2 separate regions of the Homo sapiens genome follow, and region 2 is linked to region 1. Evidence: fine-mapped expression QTL. Tissue or cell type: whole blood. Region 1 holds a variant in brackets; the other region holds the start of a gene. All regions are shown on one strand. Distances are between the middles of the regions.

Evidence for each region.
Region 2: KIAA0930 starts here. The variant in region 1 is fine-mapped to the expression of KIAA0930 in whole blood (INTERVAL, PIP above 0.99).

The regions. Positions count from the first base shown.
Region 1 is chr22:45,216,961-45,225,292 of GRCh38, forward strand. All of the region lies in intron 1 of KIAA0930, which reads right to left. Among named protein-coding and RNA genes, the nearest start is that of KIAA0930, 20 kb to the right of the region's middle. RefSeq lists enhancers at 6,262-6,763, 6,764-7,263, 7,465-8,332. The variant G/C (reference allele first, on the strand shown) is at 3,608.
Region 2 is chr22:45,236,781-45,245,112 of GRCh38, forward strand. It overlaps KIAA0930, which reads right to left and starts at 4,114. Exons shown (of 10, transcript NM_001009880.2): 1 at 3,860-4,114. The coding sequence starts at 3,923. RefSeq lists silencers at 3,688-3,777, 3,928-3,987, 4,148-4,207, 4,238-4,437.

The DNA.
Region 1 (8,332 bases):
CCGACCCACTGGGTCCTAAGGCAAATACAAGGTTAGGGTCCTCTGATCACATTTTCAGCAACTGATCAATTCATAACCTTACTTTATGTATGTTTCTCTTTCAAGACACTTTATTTAAGGCCAGATGCGGCGGTTCATGCCTGTAATCCCAGCACCTTGGAACGCTAAGGCAGGTAGAATACTTGAGGTCAGGAGTTCAAGACCAGCCTAGCCAACATCGCAAAACCCCATCTCTACTAAAAATACAAAAATTAGCCGGGCATGGTGGCGGGCGCCTGTAATCCCAGCTATTTGGGAGGCTAAGGCAGAAGAATCGCTTGAACCCGGGAGGCGGAAGTTGCAGTGAGCTAAAATCACGCCACTGCACTCTAGCCTGGGAGACAGAGCAAGACCCCGTCTCAAAAAAAAAAAAAAAAAAAAAAAAAAAAGACACCATATTTAACATATAGTTCATTCACTAACACTGAACTCATGGCCAACAACAATCAATGTTGAACGAAGCTTCTCTAACACATGTATTTTCTCCATAAAGTACATCACAGCCATCTTGTGCCTGGGACTAGATAGCATCTCAGCCCAGGGCCATTTTAAAGCACTGACAAAAAGCACAAAAAATGCAAAATACATGGCACTAACTAGACTGCAAAAAGGACACTTCTTTACAGTGTGAGACGGAGCATCGCCTTGTCTGACCTCAGCTGGAAACCTGTGTCAGGTAAGGAATTTTTCGACACTGCATGAATGTCAGTCATTAACCCGAAAGTGCCATGAGTACTGATTTTAGGGTTACAAATAAATTTCAGTGAGTAGGTGAATCCGTGAATAATGACAATGGCCTGGACCAGGAAAACTGATATTTGCCAGGAGTTCTGGTGATCCAGCTGTCTCCCCTGCCTCAAGCGAGTGACCTGCTTCTGTAAGTCACTCTCTTCGAACTCCAGAACTGGAAGAGCCCTTTCCAGGTGAGTGACTCCAGGGACTAGCAGGGGAGAGGGCGCGTGGGAAGTGAGCACTAAGCCTGGGCCGTCCACACCCCAGTGCGGTGTCTGCCACCTCTGAATTGCCACTAACTCTCCTCCTGGTTCTGCACGACGCTGGACTGGTGGCATGACAGCACCAAGAGCTCAACAGTGCTGGTTTCAGGAGCGAGGAACGTGATGACAGCTCGCGCGTGCCCTGCACCCTACAGTGTGTTTATTTATTCATTTATTTTTGAGACAGAGTTTTGTTCTTGTCGCTCAGGCTGGAGTGCAATGGCACGATCTCGGCTCACTGCAACCTCAGCCTCCCAGGTTCAGGTGATTCTCCCATCTCAGCCTCCCAAGTAGGTGTGATTACAGGCATGCACCATCACACCCAGCTAATTTTTTTGATTTTTTTTTTTTTTTTTTTTTTTTTTTTTTAGTAGAGACAGGGTTTCACCATGTTGGCCAGGCTGGTCTCAAACTCCTGACCTCAGGTGATCCACCTGCCTCAGCCTCCCAAAGTGCTGGGATTACAGGTGTGAGCCACTACGCTCGGCCACCCTACAGTTTATAAAGCCCTTTCACCCATTGTCTTTTCAGATCCTCATGGCAACTTTATGAGGTGGGGACCACCTCAGCTTAGTTTCAAACCTCAGTCTTCATTTTCAACCAAAACTTGAGACTCTAGTGGCTAGATGGTGTGTGCAGGAGCTGAGACACAAACCCAGCCCCTCCAACAGAGCCCATATCCTTCTCCTGGATAAGCCCACATCCTTATCCTTAGCCTGGCCCTGCAGGAGGATTCTCCCAGCTATGTTACAAATGCAGAAACTAAGCGAACCCGGGGGTCACCTGGTGAACAGCTAGGAAAGCAATTCAGGCTTTCAGACCTCTCCCCTCCCCCAACTTCTGAGTCCCCAGCGGGGTGGGCTCACAGGGGCCACTCTGAGCCCTGAAGCACCATCAGGGCTTCCTGGGATAGTCTAAGAACCCGTGAAAGAACTTCAGACAAGAGCTTCATGCACAGGGGCTGTGGGATCCACTTTCCAGCCGAGTGCCAATTTAACATAATTTAATTATTTTCCATGGGGATGGTTCTTCAGATGCACACTGAAAAGGGAAACTTTTATCTTTCGAGGCATTTCACGTGAATCCAATCACAATATGGGATGGGGGAAGACTGTCAGATTGGAGTTCAAGAGCAGACTTGATTCCCATTTGTGATGCACTGCCCACGTGGGTAAGTGACTGAACCTCTCAGACCTTCAGTTTCCTCATCAGTAAAATCAGAACAGCTGCCTCCTACGGTTACCATGGAGACCAAATGAGCTCCTACACAGTGCTCAGCAGTGCAACACGCACTTAGAAACGATGAATGACAACTGCCACTGTGGTTACTATGATAACTTGGAACATTTTCCACTAACCAGACCCTGGGAATAATCGCGAATTACTTTAGGAGGCATTCCTTGAAACCCACCCCAATCCTTTTTTAGAAAAGGATTAAACCATTAAACCACACAAGCAAGTTATGGTAAAGCCCTGATTAAAATAGTTTATAGCCATTAAAAATGATGGTTCTGTATTAAATAAAGAAAAATGTCCAAGAACTATCTCCCAAAAAAGTACATTAACACAGCAGGCCAAGAGGTGATTGTTTTTTTTTTTTTTTTTTTTTTTTTTTTTAAGATGGAGTCTCAGTGTCACCCAGGCTGGAATAACATCATGTGATCTCGGCTCACTGCAACCTCCATTTCCTGGGCTCAAGCCATCCTCCTGTTTCAGCCTCCTGAGTAGCTGGAACCACAGACATGCACCACCAGACCCAGCTAATTTTTGTATTTTTGGTAGAGACAGGTTTCACCATGTTGCCCAGGCTGGTCTTGAGTGCCTGAGCTCAAGCAATCCGCCTGCTTGGCCTCCCAAAGTGCTGGGATTACAGGTGTGAACCACTGCGCCCAGCCCAAGAAGTGATTTTGGGAAGGCAATCCTATCAGATTTTCAGGAAACAGACAGCTAGCTTCAGGGCTACTCACACAACTTCAGAGCCTAAGAAACATGCCAATTCTTTTTCACAAGGAGGCACAGTATTGATTTCGAAGACCACACACACAGAAAATTACAGGCTAATCTCACAGATGTCAAGACAAAAATCTTAAAAATAGTATTTAAAAGAATCCAGCAACTTATTAAAAATATATGCCATTGGCCAAGCAGAATTTAACTGGGAATAAAGAATGGTCTAGGCCAAGCTCAGAGGCTCACGTCTGTAATCCTAGCACTTTGGGAGGCCGAGGCAGGAGGATTACCTGAGGTCAGGAGTTCAAGACCAGCCTGGCAAACATGGTAAAACCCCGTCTCTACTAAAAATACAAAAAAATTAGCCGGGTGCGGTGGCAGGTGCCTATAATTCCAGCTACTCAGGAGGTTAAAGCAGGAGAATTGCTTGAATCCAGGAGGCGGAGGTTGCAGTGATCGAGATCGGGCCACTCCAGCCTGGCGACAGAGACTCAGTCTCCAAAAAAAAAAGGTTCAATATTAGAAAATCTATTAATATATTCATATCTATTTAGAGCTCAAAAGAGAAATAACACAGGATTATCTCCACAGATGCTGAAGGAGCATTCAATCAAATTCAACAC[G/C]CATTCTTGATTTTTATTTATTATTTTATGTTGGGACAGGGTCTATCTATGTCACCCAGGCTGGAGCACAGTGCTATGATCACGACACACTGCAGCCTCGACCTCCAGCCTCAAGCGATCCTCCCACCTTACTTTCCCAAGTAGCTGGGACTACAGGCATGCAATACCATGCCCAGCTGTGTTTTGTATTCTTTGTAGAGGCAGGGTTTCGCCATGTTGCCCAGGCTGGTCTTGAACTCCTGGGCTCAAGCGATCCTCCCACCTAGGCCTTCCTAAGTGCTGGGATTACACGTGTGAGCCACTGTGCCCGGCCCCCCCAACCCCACCCACTTCTCACAAAACACTGCTTCCACCTTGTGCTAAGCGTCCCCATCCTGGCCTGTATCACCATCACTGCCTGCTCACTGGTCTCTGCGTTTCCACCCTGCCCACTGTTAGAACACACATCAGTTCTGGTCACTTTTCAGCTCAAATTCCTCCACCAAGCTTATTTCCTGACCTGCCCCCAGGCTCTTTACTGAACTATCACCTTCTCAGACAGGCCTTCTCAAACCACCTGATTTAAAATTGCAAATCCCACCCTCAATATGCCCTATCCCACTTCCAGCTTGATTTTTCTCCACAGCACTTGTCACTATCGAATATATATTTTGCCTATTCTGTTTACTTTCAGTCTTTCCCTAGCAAAGGAGTCAGCAAATTCCATGAAAGTCCAGAGAGAAAATATCTTCAGCTTTGCAGACCATAGCTGCAAATGGCATGGCAGTACGTAAAGAAATGGCATGCCATGGCGATATGTAAGGAAATGGACATGGCTATGTTCCAATAAAAGTTTCTTTACAAAAACAGGAAACAGTCCGGATTTAGGGTTATAGTTTGCCAACACCTGCCCTACCAAAGCTGATGTATGTTTTCACGCAGATGCCCTACCAGAACTTAAGCTCCATGAACACATCATTAGCTTTGCTCTATGATCATTTTGTTCAATGCTATACATTTAGTTTCCAGAATGGCATATATGACATAATAAATATGTGCTAATTGAATAAATGAATTAAATGATTAATGAAAGCAAGGTGGTATCAGTACATGACTGGACAGATCAATGGAACAGAATAGAAAGCAAAAACACAAAACTCAAACACACAATAACTGGGTTTTTGTTGTTGTTGTTGTTGTTTTTTGAGACAGAGTCTCACTCTTGTTGCCCAGGCTGGAGTACGGTGGCACGATCTTGGCTCACAACAATCTTTGCCTCCCAGGTTCAAGCGATTCTCCTGCCTCAGCCTCCTGAGTAGCTGGGACTACAGGCATGCGCAACCACGCCAGGCTAATTTTTCTATTTTAGTAGAGACGGGGTATCACCATGGTGACCAGACTGGTCTCAAACTCCTGACCTCAGGTTATCTGCCCGCCTTGGCCTCCCAAAGTGCTGGGATTACAGGCATGAGCCACTGCGCCTGGCCAAGAGTTTTTATGAAGACAGCACTTGAAATCAATAGGATGTAGATTATTCTTCCACAATTGGTCTTGGTACAAGTGGCTTGCTGAGGAAAAAGAATAAGGTTGGGTCCCTGCTCAAGCCAAAATAAATTCCAAAAAGATTAAAACTTTTAATGTTAAAAGTAAAACTATAAAAAAGAAAAACCATGAGAGGATTTTTTATTCCCTCAGAGAGGGAGAAGCCTTTCTAAGGAGAACATAAAAGCTATTAAGGAGAAGAATGATCAATCAAACTATATAAACACTTAAAATTTCTCTTATTTGAGACAGGGTCCCACTCTGTCACCTAGGCTGGAGTCCAGTAGCACAATCACTGCAACTTTGACCTCAACAGGCTCAAGTGATCCTCCCACCTCAGCCTCCTAAGTGGCTGGGACTATAGGCGCACGCCACCACACCTGGCTACTTTTTGTATTTTTTGTAGAGATGAGGTCTCACTATGTTGCCCAGCTGGTCTCAAACTCCTGAGCTCAAGCAATCCGCTTGCCTTGGCCTCCCAAAGTGCTGGGATTACAAGCATGAGCCACTGGGCCTGGCCAAAAATTAAAAATTTCTATAGGGGAAAAAAAACCACCCCCGCCCCCCCACCACCACACACATACACCATAAACAAAGCAAAAAACAAATACCACACTGGAAACACAGACGGAACCCTTACATGAGGGCAATTTCCTTAACAAATACTAAGTTGTACACAATGCATAAGAAAATAAAATGGCACGGAAAGCAGAAGGAAATATAAGTGGTTTTAGAACACAAAAACATGCTCAGCTTGACACAATTAGAGAAATGTAAATTAAAGCCTCAAAATTCTATTTTCCATCTATCAGGTTTGCAAAGATCAAAATACCTGACAACACTTCAGGTCAAAGAGGATGTGGAGAAACAGGGACTTTATATCCTGCAGTAGGAACGTAAACTGCCAAAAATATCAGACAGTCAAAATCACAAACGCATTTTACCTCTGACCCAGCGATCCCACAGATGAATTTTTCCCTGTGGTCTCACTACCTACCACCTACATAAGATTCTTTAAGCATTACAGCACTGTTGGCAAAATAGTGGAGTGGTCCTATCAATAGGGATAGTAATTAAATAAACTAACTTATAAGACATTCACAGAACAGAACACTACGCAGCAATTAAAAAAGATTGAAGCAACTCTATCTGTTCCAAGGAAGAAAGTTCTCTAGAATAAATGAAGCAAAAAATGGAGAGCAGACCAATATTAGAGGTTTTTCCTATTAAAGCCAATCGTTTAAGATGACTCCAATGCTTGCTGGAGCCTGCGGAAGAGAAGGGAGGTGAGGAAGCCAGATGGTCAGGGTCCATCCTGGCTCTGGCAGTTCTGGTCATGTGACAGACAAATCCAAACCTCCTGGTGCCTGTTTCCTGACTTGTAAAATGGCAGTAACAATGGTATCTACCTCCTGGGTTGTTGAAAGTTAGTCCATCCACGTGAAGCCTTTAAAATTGTGCTGGCACCGAGCCAGCACCTAGGATCAGCACCAGATAAGCACCCAGGGTCAGCACTGAGCCAGCAACTAGGATCAGCACCAGATAAGCACCCAAGGTCAGCACTAAGCCAGCACCCAGGGTCAGCATTAAGCCAGCACCCAGGGTCAGCACTAAGCTAGCACCCAGGAACAGCACCAGATGAGCACCCAGGGTCAGCACTGAGACAGCACCCAGGATCAGCACCAGATAAGCACCCAGGGTCAGCACTGAGACAGCACCCAGGATCAGCACCAGATGAGCACCCAGGATCAGCACCAGATGAGCACCCAGGATCAGCACCAGATAAGCACCCAGGGTCAGCACTGAGACAGCACCCAGGATCAGCACCAGATGAGCACCCAGGGTAACCACTGAGCCAGCACCCAGGGTGGGAAAGTATTATTACATCATTACTAGTATCCTCATGGCCTCTGGGGAGAAAAACTATGAAGGAGAAAGACTCAGTGTTTTCATTAAGAACCTTCTCAAACCTTTTGTATTTTGTACCCTGAGCACGTTTACCTATCCAAAAAGTAACCAAAATATTTCTAACAATGCAGTTACTTGGAAAAACGCTCATGGTAGAGGAAAAAAGCCAGGACACAAAATTATACCTGAATACTTAAATGAAGGAAACTGTCTATTTTAAAAAATGCCTAGGAGGAAAGACTGAAGGAATTACACGCACATGCCCACAGTGAAGGGTTAAGAGTGGTGCAGTGCACAGATCCTCATCCCGCAAATAAAACAAAGACAAAAAAAAGTGAGGCCAGAATAACTTCGTCCTGTTTTACAAATACTCTGCGGCATGTTTACAAATACACCCAGGGCTGCCTGTGTGCCAGGCGTGGTGCTCAACACTGAGGCCTGACGCTCTTGATCTCACAACAACTGAAGCAGTTTATTTTACAAACGAGGACATGGCAGGAGGGAGACTGCCCGGCTCCCGCGGTTGGAAGCTGGTGTTTGAACCCACTCGTCCTCACATCAGTTAGTTTGGTCTCATGCGGTCCCTGCTGCCCCCGCCATCCCCAGCTTCAGTGGAAGCAGGATGAATTTTAAGTAACACAGACAGAAGTGAGATGGTAGCTGTGGCAGGCACCAGTAGAAGGTGGTGGCTGGACAGGGAATGCCAGTCAGCTGGAGACTCAAGGAAAACTAGGAATCAAGCAGGCAAAGGTGGACGGCATTCAACGCTCCCCTTGGGGGAAGATGAGTGAGGCCAGGATGGTGGATCAGCCCTGAGGCTGAGGAAGTAGAGTGGGAAGAAGAGCTGGAGGGGCCGGGCCCTCTTCCCTGGGTCAGGGGTTCTGTGTTATCCCCAGAGGGCTGGGGACCCCTGAAGTGTTTGGTGGGGAGGGGGCTGAGAAGGCGTCTGCCGTGGGGTGGCCTGCAGATGCTGGGTGCCTGTCCCGGGACTGTCTGGGTCAAGGGCCTTGAGAGGGTCCTCTCCAGAGAACACCGGGCTCAGCAATAGACTCCACTTGGCCCTGGTCATGGTCCAAAGGTGGGGGTCAACTGGACTCTTTGGGGAGAGTCCAGGCGGCCCTTGGCCCTCTGTAAGCCTCCGCACCCAGGCAGCCAGGGCTGGCTGAATGGGCTTCTGTGGCCCCTCAATAGGCCTTTCATCCACTCGTGCCTCGCAGAGCCTCTCCCAGAGCCTCTCCAGCTGAGGGCCTCCCTCCCTCGGGGCACAGAAAACAAAGGCACTGTCCAGGGAGGCCC
Region 2 (8,332 bases), 20 kb after region 1:
CCCACAGGATTACTCCAAAGACAAAAGGAAAGAATGAACATAAAATGCCCCTTCTCTGCACCACTCCGGACACAGGGAGAATCCCTTAGCCCCAAATGCCAGGCACAAATTGCTCCAAGAATGCTCAGCTGAGGCAGGGCACAGAGACAAGCAGCCGGATGTGGGTCCCACCTGCTCACGGCACCTCTCAGGACTCACACCAGGTCTTGGGCCCAGGTCGCGTCCACGTTACCTGACCAACTGTCGGGTGGGCTGCCCCTGTTGAAAGGGAGCCTGTGTGCTTGGGCTGAGGCCCAGGGCCCAGGAGAAGGCCCAAGCCCCGGGAAGAAGTGGCAGGGTTTGTCCCCCTTCAGTCCAAATGTCTGCATCGCACACCTGGGTCCTGAATCACCTGGTTCATCTGTGACCTGGAGTCATGAGCAGTGTCCTGTGGATGCAACACCAAAATCTTGCTCCGGGCAGCCGCAGCCCCACTGCTTCCAGCAGGGTTTGTACTTCAGCTAACAGTGACCTGTGCTCCTGGCTGTCTCCCCCATGGACTGTGCCCTCCCACAAGGCAGGGATCAGGGCCCAACACTCCCGCCCCCTCTCAGTACAGAGCAAGTGCTCAACTCCCCTTCTACTGCAGAGGCTGCCACAGACAAGCCTCAAAAGCCAGATGTGAAATCTACAAGGTGCCTTTCATCACGAGAGCTGAGCGATGACCCCTGAGTGAGGAGGGCCAGGAGCTTAGTCCCATCTCAGAGACAGACACTGACTCAGAGAATGACAACCACTCAACCAAAGCCCAGCGCCTCCACCTGAGGCTCCCTTGACACCTTCAAAACAACGTCAGAGGACACAGCAGGTTTCTGAGTAACCCAAGCTTTTGCTAAACAACAACAAAAATCTGGGAGATTTAAATTCATTCATAAATCTAACAGGCTGTCACAGAGGTGAAGTGGAGATGATCAAACACAACCCTGCCCCCACAGCTTGAGAGTGTTGATGATTCAGTGGACGCAGAAGTGCTCCGGGGCTGGTGTTCTGGCTCCTCTCAGGACTCACACCTGAGAGGTGAGAGGTGCGCTCCACTCTGGGCATCAAGTTCCTAGTAAGCTCACCCCTCGCTGAACATCAAATCTCTCATCTGAAAAATGAGCCCTTTTTTTTTTTTTTGAGACAGAGTCTCACTCTGTAGCCCAGGCTGGAGTGCAGTGGCGTGATCTCGGCTCACTGCAACCTCCGCCTCCCGGGTTCACACCATTCTCTTGTCTCAGCCTCCTGAGTAGCTGCGACTATAGGCGCCCGCCACCACGCCTGGCTAATTTTTTTTTTTGTATTTTTAGTAGAGACGGGGGTTTCCTCATGTTAGCCAGGCTGGTCTCAAACTCCTGACCTCATGATCCGCCCGCCTCAGCCTCCCAAAGGGTTGGGATTACAGGCATGAGCCACCACGCCCGGCCAAAAATGAGGCCTTCTAAGAAGCTAAGATTCCCATCTCCGTGGCCCTCCACGCCCTTCATCTGCCAGTCCAGATAATAATTTTCTCACTTGTTCACTAAATGTTTACTGGGCACCTGCTCCGTATGTGCCCCATGCTGGGCACCAAGATGAATCAGACTGGGTAATGCCTTTGAAGGCCTCACCTGCTAACTGGGGAGACAGCACACAGACCATGACAAGGCCACAATCATCCTGATTGTCCCAACAAACATGTGCCTGGCACAAAGAGAACACAGGCAGAACAGGACTGTGTGCCTGGGAGCTGGAAAGAGTTCCCGGAGAGGCAACACTGGAGCTGAGACTTAAAGGAAAACTTAGAGATGCTTGTGGGGCACATGAGTAGGGGCGGCTTTCCGGGCAGAGAAAACAGCAGGTTTTCTCTGCTTCAGAGCCCTGCAGGGACTGAGTTCAGCAGCAGGGGAAGAGGGGAGACCTGGCACGTGCGGGAGGCCTGGAGAAGAGACAAGGAAACAGCGTGAGTATCGTAGGCACATAAAGACCTGGCTGGGGATATTCAGGGAGTGGAGGGCAGGCTCTGAGGTCAGGCTGGCAGAGGGTCAGTCCCGGCTATGCTGCTATGCTGCTTCCTCATTGGTTGTCCCTGGGCAGGCTCTCTCTCTCTCTCTCTCTCTCTCTCACCCTCAGGCTCTTCATCGCTGATATGGAGATAATACTGCTCCCTGGCAAAGTCAGCATTGTGTCAGGATTAAATTTGCAGCATGAGTAAAGCACCCGGCACATAGTAAGTGCTCAGTAAATGCTAGGTGCCATTTTCACTGTTCACTGTTCTTCTGGGAATGGCCCTGCAGCCTCCTTGCGGGAGGGGCTGCCTAGAAGAGGAGAGAAGGTGCTCACAGGTAAAGGTGGTCAGAGGACAATAGGTGTGTGTGGACAGGGGAGTGGGGAGGGACTGCTTGAAGCTGCTGAGCAAACAGGGCCAAGTGACCTGCAGCAGATGGTCCTTCAGATGCATCCCAGCTCAGATATTCGGTGCCAGCTGACAGGTGGGCCTGCCACGGTGGCACACAGTAGGTGCTCAATGAATGTTTGCAGAATGAATGAATAAGCACGCTCCAACTTCTGCTCAAAAGTAAATCTTGACACCTTTTCAGAAAGAAACCATTGAAACCTTGTCAACCATTGAAGTTCTTGTCCATTTCACTTCATAAGCACCCCCCACCCCACCCCTGCATGAGGAAAGGCTCGCCTGGGCAGGCTAGGCTGGGGCCTGCTCACTGGGAAGCCTCCCATGCTAAGCCTGCCTCCTACAAAAGGGATTCAAATTTACTTCCTCTCTCCACTCCAGCCTCCAGGGTGTGGCCTGCTGAGGGGCCCTGAATGCCTGGGACTGCCATGTCCCTGCAGCTGTGTGACCTTAGGGGGATGCACTTGTTCTCTGGGACTCAGTTTCCCCAACGGTGAATGAAGGGGTGAATCTGGAAGGCTGACATTCCGTACTCAGCAATGCTGTCACCCCCTCAGAAATCCCCAGCCTAGCCTGGGGGTGGGGTGGGGGGTGGCTGACAATGTGGTATGAAGTCATTCCCTGCACGGAGGAGGGAGGGGTCTTTTCCATGGAGAAAATGACGAACCTGAGACGACAAAAGAGGGGGCTTCTCCTGGGCTTCAGTCTGGGCATGATCCATCAGTAATGGATTACCTCACTGGCTGGGAGACCCCACCCACACCTGCAGTCCCAGGCCCTTCCAAACAATACGAGGCACCCCCATCCCACGCCCCCCAGCAGATCCATGACTTAAAGCCCAGAATCACACCGAGAGGCAGCAGGCCCTGCCCCTCAGCCAAGCGGGCGGGTTCGGGGGGCCATTGCCCAACAGGTCCCTGGATACAGCTAAGGGATGAGAGGGGCCGGTGGGTGCGGAAAGACAAAGGCTTCGGGTAGCAGGAGACAGTGGCCAGGGCACGCTCGCAGCGAGGTCCACCCAGAGCCCAACGAGGGCCCGACCCTGCCGCGCTGGGCTAAGGGTGTACCCAGATCCCACGCCCACACTCCCTACCGCGGTGCTGAGGGCCCGGGGCGGGCTTCCTGGAGAAGGAAGAAGACCCGCAGAGACACGAAGAAGAAGGAGGAAGATGAGACAGACACCCGGACGGACTGACAGGGGGAGACGCCGAATGAGACCCGGGCACAGGGGTGCGGGGCGCTCGTCGGACGGAAAGCAGAGACAGACCCAGATGCAGGGACGGTGGGGGGGGGGCCATGGAGGAAGACAGGGTACCCAGGCAGACCCAGAGACCACGACACCCGCGCAGAGACAGAGATGCGCGGGGCGCACAGAAACACGGACGCGCAGAGGCGGCCCCGGAGACGCTCACCTCTCCCGGCCCGGCCTCGCCCCCGGGTCCCACTCACCGAGGCCGCAGACCTCGCGGCGCAGGCTAAGACGGCCGCGCTCCTCCGCTATGGCACGCAGCATGTGCTGCAGCGAGCGCTCCTCGGCCTCGGCGCCGCCCGCAGGCTCGGGGGCGGCGGCGGCGGGGAGGGCGGGCGGCCCGGCCCGCAGCCCGCCGCGAGCACCAAGGAAGCCACAGTCCGCCTCTGTGCGCGTCGCCGTCGCCGCCGCCGCCGCCACCACCCGCCAAACACAGCACCGGCGAGCGCACCTCCGCGCCGCCGCCGCCCGCGCGCCCCCGGCTCCGCTCGCCCCGCCCCGGCCCGGCCCGGCCCCGGTCCGGCCCCGCCCCTTCCCCGCCCCGGCCCCGCCCCTGTCCCCTCCCGCCCCGCCTCTGAACGGCCCGGACCCACCCCGGCTCCCTGGCCCCGCCCCCTGACCTCCCTTGCCCCGCCCACTTCCAAACGGCCAGTCTCCGCCAATCTTCGGATGCCCAGGACAGCCTCCCTCAAACCGCTCGCGGGGTCCCGCCTCCACCCAAGGTCCTAAACGCCCCACCAACGGGATCACGCCTCTGAGCCCCTCCCGCCGCCCCTTCAGGGCACCTCTCCCCTCCCCCGCTGCTACCCCACGGGATGTGTACTTTGTCACCCGCCCTGTGCGTTGCCACCTCCACCAAGTCCCCTCGGCTGACTTCTGGGAACTTCCTCCGCAGAACCCCTCAAGAGGTCACCTGCTCCCAGAAGGTGGTCTCCTGGGGGACACCGTGGCAAAGCCCTTCCGGCCCCCCTCCTCTGCACCTGGCACAGTGCAGAGTGTTGCGCCTCCATTTCCTCAGCTGCACCATGGGGGACCTTTCCCTGCCTTGCCTCCCCAACATGGGGGAGTGTTGATGAAGGGGGAGGTATGAGGTTAGCTGGGCGTGTCATCCTGATGAAGCCAGGTCTGGCCAGCATCCCTCCGTGTGCTAGTTGTGGCTGATACAGGAAGACACCGGAGAAGCAGCCAGTGGCCTCCCCAAACCTCACGCCTGGTGGTCCATTTCCAAGAACAGGGGGAGATGGAGAGACCAGCATTGATTTCCAGGTCTCTCCAAAGCTAAATCTACATCACTCCCTGCATTCACAGCCTGTGTGTGGACCCCAGACCCATCAAGGTCCCCCTTTCCCCTGTCTGGAGTCCTCTTCTCCCCATTCCTGTGTAACTTGCTTCCTTTGTGTCCCGAGTGTCACATCCTCAAAGAAACTCCCCTGACCGCCTTCCCTCCCTCTCTCTTCCCTTAGTCTGTTTCTCCTTCACAGGGTGACACTTACCTCCTCCCGACACATTGGATACCTATGGGTTCACTTGTTCTCTTCTCTACCGAGGGAGGGGCCTGTCTACTACACAGCTGTTGTCTCAGTACCCAGAACATTGCCTGGCACACATTAGATGCCCAATAAATAGATATGGGCTGCAGGCTGGGCACAGTGGCTCATGCCTGTAATCCCAACACTTTGGGAGGCCGAGGTAGGTGGATTGCCTGAGGTTAGGAGTTCCAGAACAGCCTGGCTAAAATGGTGAAACCCCATCTCTACTAAAAATACAAAAATTAGCCGGGCATGGTAGCACACATTTGTAATCCCAGCTACTCTGGAGGCTGAGGCAGGAGAATTGCTTGAACCTGGGAGGCGGAGGCTGCAGTGAGCCGAGATCCCGCCACTGCACTCCAAGCTGGGAGACAGAGCAAGACCCTGTCCCCCCCCAAAAAAAAAGAAAAGAAAAGAAAAAAAAATGTAGGCTGCATAAACGAAGAATGATGGAGAGGTCTGATGGGGACGCAGGGGTCTTCCTGGGAGGCACAGCAGGAAGGAGCCGTGGGGTTGGGCAGAGCCCCAGAAGGGAGATGGGATCTGGATCCTGCTTCAGGCCTCTGCCCCAGTTTTGTGCCACTGGCCCCTGAACTCTTCAGAGCAGAGCCACATCTGACCCCTCTGTGTCCCCAGTGCCAGGCCCAGGAGGGCTCTGTAGAAAGGTGAGCAGTGAGGGAATGAAGGAAGTGCGCGACCAGCCTCACGTGTATTTCTCTTCTCCAGTGGGCCTGCATCCCTGTCTGTAAAGTGAGGACACTGGCATGAGGGCTGAGGCCTCTGGTTCTGCGTCTGGAGAGCTGGGGTTTGGGCTGGTGGACGTGAGAACTGGGGATGGTGGATCAGACAGCATGAGCGAGTGCTCCAAGGCTGTCAAGTCCAATAGTCACATCCCTCTTTGCCTCCCCAAACCCCACAGCACCCCCTGCCTGTTCCCACTGCCATGCGTTTGCCCACAGTGTTCCCTTGGCCTGAAATCCTTTCTGCTCCGCAACTGTAGTTGCCTTTGGGACCCACATTGCCTGGTTACGCTTGGCCAATGCATTGTGTTCTTATTTGCTTCACAAACCCCCTTTCCCCACCCCACCCTCCTGCACACAGTTGCCTCCGTGTATTCTGTGTCATATGACCAGCATTGAACCAATTCATCCCACTTCCCGTGGCACCCAGCCCAGGACTGGTGCCAGAAAAATATCTGTTGAATGAATGAGTAAACAAACATCGCTTGGGCTCTCTCCTTTGTATTTCAATAATACTCCAGGTATTACCTATACACAGAATTTTCTTTCTTTCTTTTTTTTTTTTTTTTTTTTTGAGGCGGAGTTTTGCTCTTGTTGCCCAGGCTGGAGTACAATGTCGCGATCTCGCCTCACCGCAACCTCCACCTCCCAGGTTCAAGCAATTCTCTTGCCTCAGCCTCCCAAGTAGCTGGGATTACAGGCATGTGCCACCACGCCCGGCTAATTTCATGGAGATGGGGTTTCTCCATGTTGGTCAGGCTGGTCTCGAACTCCTGACCTCACATATACACAGAATTTTCTAATGTCAACAAATGCTAAATCACACTGTGCATGGGAAGAGGGCAGGAGCAGGACTTCTGGGGCTACAGAGCATGTTCTGTTTCTTGATCTGGGGGCTGGTTACACGGGTGTGGTCAGTTTATGAAAATTAAAAGGCTGCACAGCTGGGCATGGTGGCTCACGCCTGTAATCCCAGCACTTTGGGGGGCCAAGGCGGGCAGATCACCTGAGGTCGGGAGTTCGAGACCAGCCTGGCCAACCTGGCGAAACCCCATCTCTACTAAAAATACAAAAATTAGCTGGGCGTAATGGCACACACCTGTAGTCCCAGCTATTCTGGAGGCTGACGCAGGAGAATCGCTCGAACCTGGGAGGCAGAGGTTGCAGTGAGCCGAGATTGTGCCACTACACTCCAACCTGGGCAACAGAGCGAGACTCCATCTCAAAAAAAAAAAAAAGTTAGAAAATCAAAAGGCTGTGTGCTGTGGTTCAAACCTGTAACCACAGCACTTTGGGAGGCCAAGGCAGGCAGGAGGCTGGCTTAGGCCCAGGAGTTTGAGACCAGCCTGGCCAACATAGCAAGACCTCATCTTTACAAAAAAAAAAAAATTAGCCAGGTGTGATGACACACGTCTGTGGTCACAGCTACTCAGGAGGCTGAGGTGGGAGGATTGCTTGAGGCGGGGAAGTCAAGGCTGCAGTGAGCCGCGATCACACTGCTGCACTCCAGCCTAGGCAACAGAGTGAGACCTGGTCTCAAAAAAAAAATATATATATATGTATATATAACATATATATATGTAATATATATAATATATATGTTATATATGTAATATATGTATGTAATATATATATAAAGCTGGCATTTTGTAATTATTTATGCACTTTTCTGTATACAAATATTCAGAATATAAAATAGAATTGAAAGTATATAGGCAGAATAATGGCCCCAAAATGCCCACACCCTAATTCCTGTGCTAATTCCTGTGAATATGTTGCCTTACCTGGCAAAATGGACTTTGCTGACGTGATTTTTTGTTTGTTTGTTTTCGAGACAGGGTCTCACTCAGTTGCCCAGGCTGGAGTGCAGTGGCACGATCTTAGCTCACTGCAACCTCCACCTCCCCAGCTCAATCCATCCTCCCACCTCAACCTCCTGAGTAGCTGGGACTAAGGGTGTGTGCCACCACACCCGGCTATTTTTTGTATTTTTTGGTAGAGACAGGGTTTCACCATGTTGGCCAGGCTGGTCTCGAACTCCCGACCTCAAGTGATCTGCCCACCTCGGGCTCCCAAAGTGCCGGGATTACAGGCATGAGCTGCCACATGGGGCCTAAGAGTACAGACACTGAGATAGGGAGACTATCCTGGGTTATCCAAGTGGGCCCAATCTCATCACATAAATTCTTAAAATCGGGGAACATTTCCTGGCTGTGGTCAAAAAGAGATGTGACAACACAAGAATGGTCAGGTAAATGCAATGTTGCTGGCACTGAAGAGGGAGGAAGGGGCCACAAGACAAGGCATACAGGCAGCTTCCGGAAGCTGGAAGAGGCAAGGAAACAGATTCTCCTACAGTTGCCCCCAGATATGACACAGCCCTGCCTGCACCTTGACTTTAGCT